Linked DNA regions of Homo sapiens. The protein of the gene in region 1 interacts with the protein of each later gene in a pairwise test. Each region holds a gene or a part of one and is shown in the gene's direction. Other genes may lie near its edges.

Evidence for each region. The genes of interacting proteins can lie anywhere in the genome.
Region 2: the proteins of GLE1 (region 1) and ODAD3 interact in binary tests that used the Homo sapiens proteins (3 or more experiments, as listed by UniProt).

Annotation. Positions count from the first base shown.
Region 1 is NC_000009.12:128,535,718-128,539,366, forward strand, and holds part of GLE1 (mRNA export factor GLE1), read left to right. Parts: intron 1-637; coding exon 638-767; intron 768-1,109; exon of another isoform or gene 1,110-1,238; intron 1,239-2,268; coding exon 2,269-2,373; intron 2,374-3,649. UniProt on the Homo sapiens protein: Required for the export of mRNAs containing poly(A) tails from the nucleus into the cytoplasm. May be involved in the terminal step of the mRNA transport through the nuclear pore complex (NPC).
Region 2 is NC_000019.10:11,428,550-11,432,198, reverse strand, and holds part of ODAD3 (outer dynein arm-docking complex subunit 3), read left to right. Parts: intron 1-1,178; coding exon 1,179-1,300; intron 1,301-1,422; coding exon 1,423-1,500; intron 1,501-3,649. UniProt on the Homo sapiens protein: Component of the outer dynein arm-docking complex (ODA-DC) that mediates outer dynein arms (ODA) binding onto the doublet microtubule. Involved in mediating assembly of both ODAs and their axonemal docking complex onto ciliary microtubules.

The DNA of each region.
Region 1 (3,649 bases):
GGCAGAGGCAGAAGAATCGCTTGAACCCGAGAGGCGGAGATTGCCTGAGATCGTGCTATTGCTTTCTAGCCTGGGCGACAAGATGGAAATTCCATCTCAAAAAAAAAAATTAGCCGGCTATGGTGGCATGTGCCTGTGGTCCTAGCTACTCAGGAGGCTGAGGCGGGAGGATCACTTGAACCTGGGTGGTGAAGTTTGCAGTGAGCCTTGATCATACCACTGTACTCCAGCCTGGGTGACAGAGACTCTGTTTCCCAAAAAAAAGCAATTTATCTCTAATTTGTCACCCTTATTTTGGCCTTGTCCCAGTGAATTTTTTCTTATTTCTTTTTTTTGAGACACAGTCTTACTGTTACCCAGGCTGGAGTGCAGTGATGCAATCTTGACTCACTGCAACCTCCACCTCCCAGGTTCAAGCAATTCTCATGCCTCAGCCTCCCAATTAGCTGGGACAAACAGGCATGCACCACCATACCCAGTTAATTTTTGTATTTTTAGTAGAGATGGGGTTTCACCACATTGGCCAGGCTAGTCTTGAACTCCTGGCCTCAAGTGATCTGCCCACCTTGGCCTCCCAAAGTGCTGGGATTACAAGCGTGAGCCACCACACCCGGCCAAATTTTTTCTTCCCGTATAGGATGCTTGGTTACCAAGTAAAGGATTCCAAAGTGGAGCAGCAAGACAACTTTCTAAAACGCATGTCAGGGATGATCCGTCTCTACGCTGCTATCATCCAGCTCCGGTGGCCATATGGAAACCGACAGGAGGTAGGTAAAAGAGGCTTACTGTCAATAATGAGAGGTTAGACCACAGTCCATGTGTATTCCTCCCACAGGAAATGTTGGCCTTCTTTCAGAGAGCCAGTCTAGTTAAAGGATAAACTATATGGCAGTTTCATGGGTATTATGTAGAGGACTGAATGTTGATTATTAGGGAACTTTCTTGGATCACCTGGTACTTTAAAGAGCTGGTTTTGTAACAGAGTCTACCAGAGGAGAGTCTGTTATAAATCAGTCATTAAGGTTAGAAGATTTTCTTACAAGAGGAATGAGCAAGAAATTGTCATCTTAGAACTAGTTGAGACCTTAGAAGCCATCTAGATCACATACCTTACTTCACAGATGGACAGAACAAGCTCAGAAAGCTGCAGCTGGGGTTCAGGGCTTTGACTTGCCAGCCCAATTAATTTCTCAGGGAATACAGATTAGAAGGACAGAGAAATTAATAGTTACGGAGACCTAAAGAGAAAAAATAGAAGTTGATTAAATCCAAGTTTTTATTGTATGCCTGCTGTGTCCCAGGTTCTGTGCTAAAGGTACCAAGAATAATAAATAAAATGTCAATAAGGCTAATTGTTACCCTATGGAATGCCTGAAACTGAAGCTGACACATGCATATTGAAGGGAGCCTATAAAGAATGTGTGGGAACCAATGTATTGAAACATTAAAAAATAGAAGGCGAGGTAGCTTCAGGCCTGATATCCCAGCACTTTGGGAGGCTGAGGTGGGTGGATCACCTAAGGTCAGGAGTTCAAGACCAGCCTGGCCAACATGGTGAAACCCCGTCTCTACTAAAAATACAAAAATTAGCTGGGCATGGTGGTGGGCACCTGTAATTCCAGCTACTTGGGAGGCTGAGGCACGAGAATCGCTTTAACCCAGGAGGCAGAGGTGGCAATGAGCCGAGATCACGCCATTGCACTCCAGCCTGGGCAACAAGAGCAAAACTCTCCCTCAAAAAAAAAAAAAAAAAAAAAAAAAGAATGTGTGGGAACCAATGTACTGAAACATTTAAATACAGAAGGCTGGGCGAGGTAGATTCATGCCTGTAATCCCAGCCCTTTAGGAAGCCGAGACAGGTGGGTCATTTGACTCCAGGAGTTTGAGACCAGCCTGGGCAACAAGGTGAAACCATGTCTCTAAATAAAATACAAAAAAATTAGCTGAGCACGGTGGCATGTGCATGCCTGTAGTCCCAGCTACTTGGGAGACTGAAGTGGAAGAATCACTTGAGCCCAGGAGGTGAAGGCTGCAGTGATCCATGATCGCACTATAGCACTCCAACCTGGACAACAAAGTGAGACCCTGTCTCAAAAAAATAAAAGAAAAACAGAATTTGTTTAGTTTGTGTTATTTCTGCCCTGTGGCAGGTGCTAGGGCTGGATGATCTGGGGTTCATTTCCACTTGGTAATGGCTGGATGATACACTGGGAGTTTAGATTTCTAAACAAAATGAGATCAATGATAACCAAGCTTCTCTACTCCCAGATTCACCCTCATGGCTTAAATCATGGATGGCGCTGGTTGGCACAGATCTTAAACATGGAGCCCTTGTCAGATGTGACAGCCACCCTCCTCTTTGACTTCCTGGAGGTACGTAACTCAGTTATCACACAAGAGAAGGCCAGTGGTTGAGGTAGCCTTGATCCACTGGGTGACATGAATGGGGAAACAGCATAGCATTTGGGCCTGATAGTAAAACAGCATGAGGTTCCAGTGTCATACATTTTTCCCAAGCTGTAGACCAACCTTGCTTTCACTTTTACTCCATACTATATTTACTTGGCTTCTCTGGATTTTTTTCATTATAAAGAACAGAAAATTGTACATTCTAGCAAAAGTGAAAAGAGGAATTTGTTTTAGGGATATAGAAGGGACTCCCAGGCCGGGTGCGGTGGATCACACCTGTAATCCCAGCACTTTGGGAGGCCAAGGTGGGCGGATGACATGGGGTCAGGAGTTCGAGCCCAGCTGGTCAGTATATTGAAACCCTGTCTGTACTAAAAATACAAATAAAGGCCGGGCACGGTGGCTCACGCCTGTAATCCCAGCACTTTGGGAGGCCGAGGTGGTTGGATTACCTGAAGTCATGAGTTCAAGACGAGCCTGTCCAACATGGTGAAACCCCGTCTCTACTAAAAATAAAAAATCAGCCGGGTGTGATGGTGCACACCTGTCATCCCAGCTACCGAGGAGGCTGAGGCAGGAGAATCGCTTGAACAGGATCTCACTCTGTCAGCCAGGCTGGAGTGCATTAGTGTGATCATAGCTCACTGTAGCCTCAAACTCTTGGGCTCAAGCGATCCTCCCACCTAACCCTGCCAAAGTGTTGAGATTACAGGAGTGAGCCATTGCACTCAGCCAAGAAGACACTTCTTATAGAAGAAAGCCTTGGGGTACATGCCATAACAAATCTGGAACCATTTGATCTATAGTGCCAATAGTTCCTAGTTACCTTAATAGCTCCTGACGTCAGCCAGGTGCAGTGGCTGACAGCCTTTGGGAGGCCAAGGCAGGCGGATCACTTGAGCTCTGGAGTTCAAGACCAGCCAGGGCAATATGGTGAAACCCTATATCTACCAAAAAAATACAAAAATTAGTGGTGTGTGCCTGTGGTCCCAGTTACTGAGGAGGCTGAGGTTGGAGGATCACCTGAGCCCAGGGAGGTTGAGGCTACAGTGAGCTGTGATCATGCCAGTGTCCTCTAGCCTGGGCGACAGAGTGAGACCCTATTTCAAAAAAAAATAAAAAGCTCCTGAAGTCACCATACATGAACAATGATCCTGTATCATTTGAGAACACAAGTGGTATTCTGTATACTCTCCTTACTAAGTTTGGGAGGTATACCATACCTTTAGGAAGGCGTCCA
Region 2 (3,649 bases), on another chromosome or scaffold:
TTTGTATCTGCAGGTTCCACAGGGCTGACTGTGGGACTTGAGTATGGAAGGATTTTGGGGTTTTTTGTTTTGTTTTGTTTTGTTTTTTGAGACAGAGTCTTGCTCTGTTGCCCAGGCTGGAGTGCAGTGGCAGGATCTCAGCTCAATGCAACCTCCACCTCCAGAGGTCAAGTAATTATTGTGCCTCAGCCTCCTGTAGCTGGGATTACAGGCACCCACCATCATGCCCGGCTAATTTTTTTTTTTTTTTTTTTTTGAGGCAGAGTCTCGCTCTGTCACCCAGGCTGGAGTGCAGTGGTGCGATCTCGGCTCACTGCAAGCTCTGCCTCCCAGGTTCACACCATTCTCCTGCCTCAGTCCCCTGAGTAGCTGGGACTACAGGTGCCTGCCACCATGCACGGCTAATTTTTTTTTTTTTTTGTATTTTTAGTAGAGGCGGGATTTCACTATGTTAGCCAGGATGGTCTCGATCTCCTGACCTCGTGATCCGCTCACTTTGGCCTCCCAAAGTGCTGGGATTATGGACGTGAGCCACCGTGCCCGGCCATGCCCAGCTAATTTTTGTATTTTTGTAGAGATGGGGTTTCACCATGTTGGCCAGGCTGATCTTGAACTCTTGACCTCAGGTGATCCGCCCGCCTCTACCTCCCAAAGTGCAAGGATTACAGGAACGAGCCATCATGCTCAGCCTCACACCTGGCTAATTTTTGTATTTTTAGTAGAGATGCGGTTTTACCATGTTGGCCAGGCTGGTCAACGACTGCATTCTTATAATATTAAGTTGATGAGCCTGGCACAGTGGCTCACACCTATAATCCTAGGACTTTAGGGGGCCTAGAACTTTGGGAACACCTGAGGTCAGGAGTTCGAGACCAGCCTGACCAACATGGAGAAACCCCATGTCTACTAAAAATACAAAATTAGCCAGGTGTGGTGGTACATGCCTGTAATCCCAGCTACTTGGGAGGCTGAAGCAGGAGAATCTCTTGAACCCGGGAGGCGGAGGCTGTGGTGAGCCGAGATTGCACCATTGCACTGCAGCCTGGGCAACAAGAGTGAAACTCCATCTCAAAAAAAAAAAAAAAGTTGATGATTGCAAAAAAGGTCTTTCCTCTGGGATGTTGCACCCATGCACCCACCCAGTAACTGTGTGTCTGTCCACCTCACCTGCCTGCCAGAGGGTGACCGGAAGGCTTTTTTTGAGAGCTCTCAGTGGAACATCAAGAAGAACCAGGAGACCATCAGTCAGCTCCGCAAGGAGACTAAGGCACTGGAACTAAAGCTGCTGGACCTGCTCAAGGTAAGGGGCAAAGGGGTGGGTGTAGGGTTCCCGTGGCGGTGGATGGTGGGGGACAAGTAGGTAGCACCTGGCCTTAGCTGGAGGTGGCATGCTGAAAGGTGACTGGACTTCCCTCCTTGCAGGGAGATGAGAAAGTGGTCCAGGCAGTGATTCGCGAATGGAAGTGGGAGAAGCCATACCTGAAGAACAGGACAGGACAGGTTTGCCCACCCTCGCCCCACCTCCTCCTTCATTTCCAGCCTGGGTCCCCTCACCACTGGACTCCAGGCTCACCCTCTCCAATCCTTCCTGCACACTAGCTGCCATTCATGTGCTCATTCAATTAAATCTTTATTACTCACTTTCCTTGTATCTGGCATCCTGGCATGGTAGTAAATGCAGTGAAAAAGCAGACCAAGTCTCCACTTCTAAAAACAGCTCATATCCTAATAGGGAAAACAAGTTAAAAAAAAAAACATCACAGCCAGGCGCGGTGGCCCACGTCTGTAATCACAGCACTTTGGGAGGCCAAGGCGGGCAGATGACCTGAAGTCGGGAGTTCAAGACCAACCTGACCAACATGGAGAAACCCTGTCTCTACTAAAAATACAAAACTTAGCTGGGCATGATGGCACGTGCCTGTAATCCCAGCTACTCGGGAGGCTGAGGCAGGAGAATCGCTTGAACCCGGGAGGCAGAGGTTGCAGTGAGCCGAGATTGTGCCATTACACTCCAGCCTGGGCAACAAGAGCGAAACTCCGTCTCAAAAAATAAATAAAATAAAAATAATTAAAAAAAATAAAACATTTTAAAAGTCATTGAACCCAAGAGGCAGAGGTTGTAGTAAGCTGAGGTTGTGCCACTGTGCTCCAGCCTGGGAGACAGAGTGAGACTCAGTCTCAAAACAAACAAACGAAAACAATGACCAGTGGCACATGCCTGTAATCCCAGCTATTCAGGAGGCTGAGGCTGGAGGATTGCATGAGCCTAGAAGTTTGAGACTATAATGAGCCACAATTGCACCACTGCACTCCAGCCTGAGTGACAGTACAACCTGTTTCTTTAAAAAAAAAAAAAAAAAAGGCTGGGCGCGGTGGCTCACGCCCGTAATCCCAGCACTTTGGGAAACCGAGGCGGGTGGATCACGAGGTCAGGAGATCGAGCCCATCCTGGCTAACACGGTGAAACCCCGTCTCTACTAAAAATACAAAAGGCCGGGCGCGGTGGCTCATGCCTGTAATCCCAGCACTTTGGGAGGCCGAGGTGGGTGGATCACAAGGTCAGGAGTTCTAGACCAGCCTGGCCAAGATGGTGAAACCCTGTTTTTACTAAAAATACAAAAATTAGCCAGGTGTGGTGGCAGGCACCTGTAATCCCAGCTACTCAGGAGGCTGAGGCACAGAATTGCTTGAACCCAAGAGGCAGAAGTTGCAGTGAGCTGAGATCGCACCACTGCACTCCAGTCTGGGCGACAGAGTGAGACTCTGTCTCAAAAATAAATACATAAATAAAAAATAAAATAAAAATAAAAATACAAAAAATTAGCCAGGCATGGTGGTGGGCGCCTGTAGTCCCAGCTACTCAGGAGTCTGAGGCAGGAGAACAGTTTGAACCCGGGAGGCGGAGCTTGCAGTGAGCTGAGACTGGTGCCACTGCACTCCAACCTGGGTGACAGAGCGAGACTCTGTCTCAAAAAAACAAAAACAAACAAACAAACAAAAACAAAAGATAAAAAATTAAAGGCCGGGCGCGGTGGCTCACGCCTGTAATCCCAGCACTTTGGGAGGCTGAGGCGGGCGGATCACCTGAGGTCGGGCGTTTGAGACCAGCCTGGCCAACATGGCGAAACCCCGTCTCTACTAAAAATACAAAAAATTAGCCGGGCATGGTGGTGCATGCTTGTAATCCCAGCTACTCAGGAGGCTGACGCAGGAGAATCCCTTGAACCCGGGAGGTGGAGGTTGCTGTGAGCCGAGATCATGCCATTGCACTCCAGCCTGGGCAACTCTGTCTCAAAATAAATAAATAAATAAATAAATAAATAAATAAATAAATAAAAAATAAAACACAGTCTAGGCATGGTGGCTCATGCCTTGTAATACCAGCACTTTGGGAGGCCAAGGCTGGAGGATCACTTGAGCCCAAGAGTTTGAGACCAGCCTGCCAACATAGTGAAACTTTGACTCTACAACAAATACAGAAGATTTGCCAAATGTGGTGGCACAGGATTGTAGTCCCAGCTACTTGCCAGGCTGAGGTGGGAGGATCACCTGAACTGGGGAGGTCGAGGCTGCAGTGAGTCATGTTCGTGCCACTGCACTCCCGTCCGGGTGACAAAGCAAGGCCTTGTCTGAAAAAATAATTATAAAA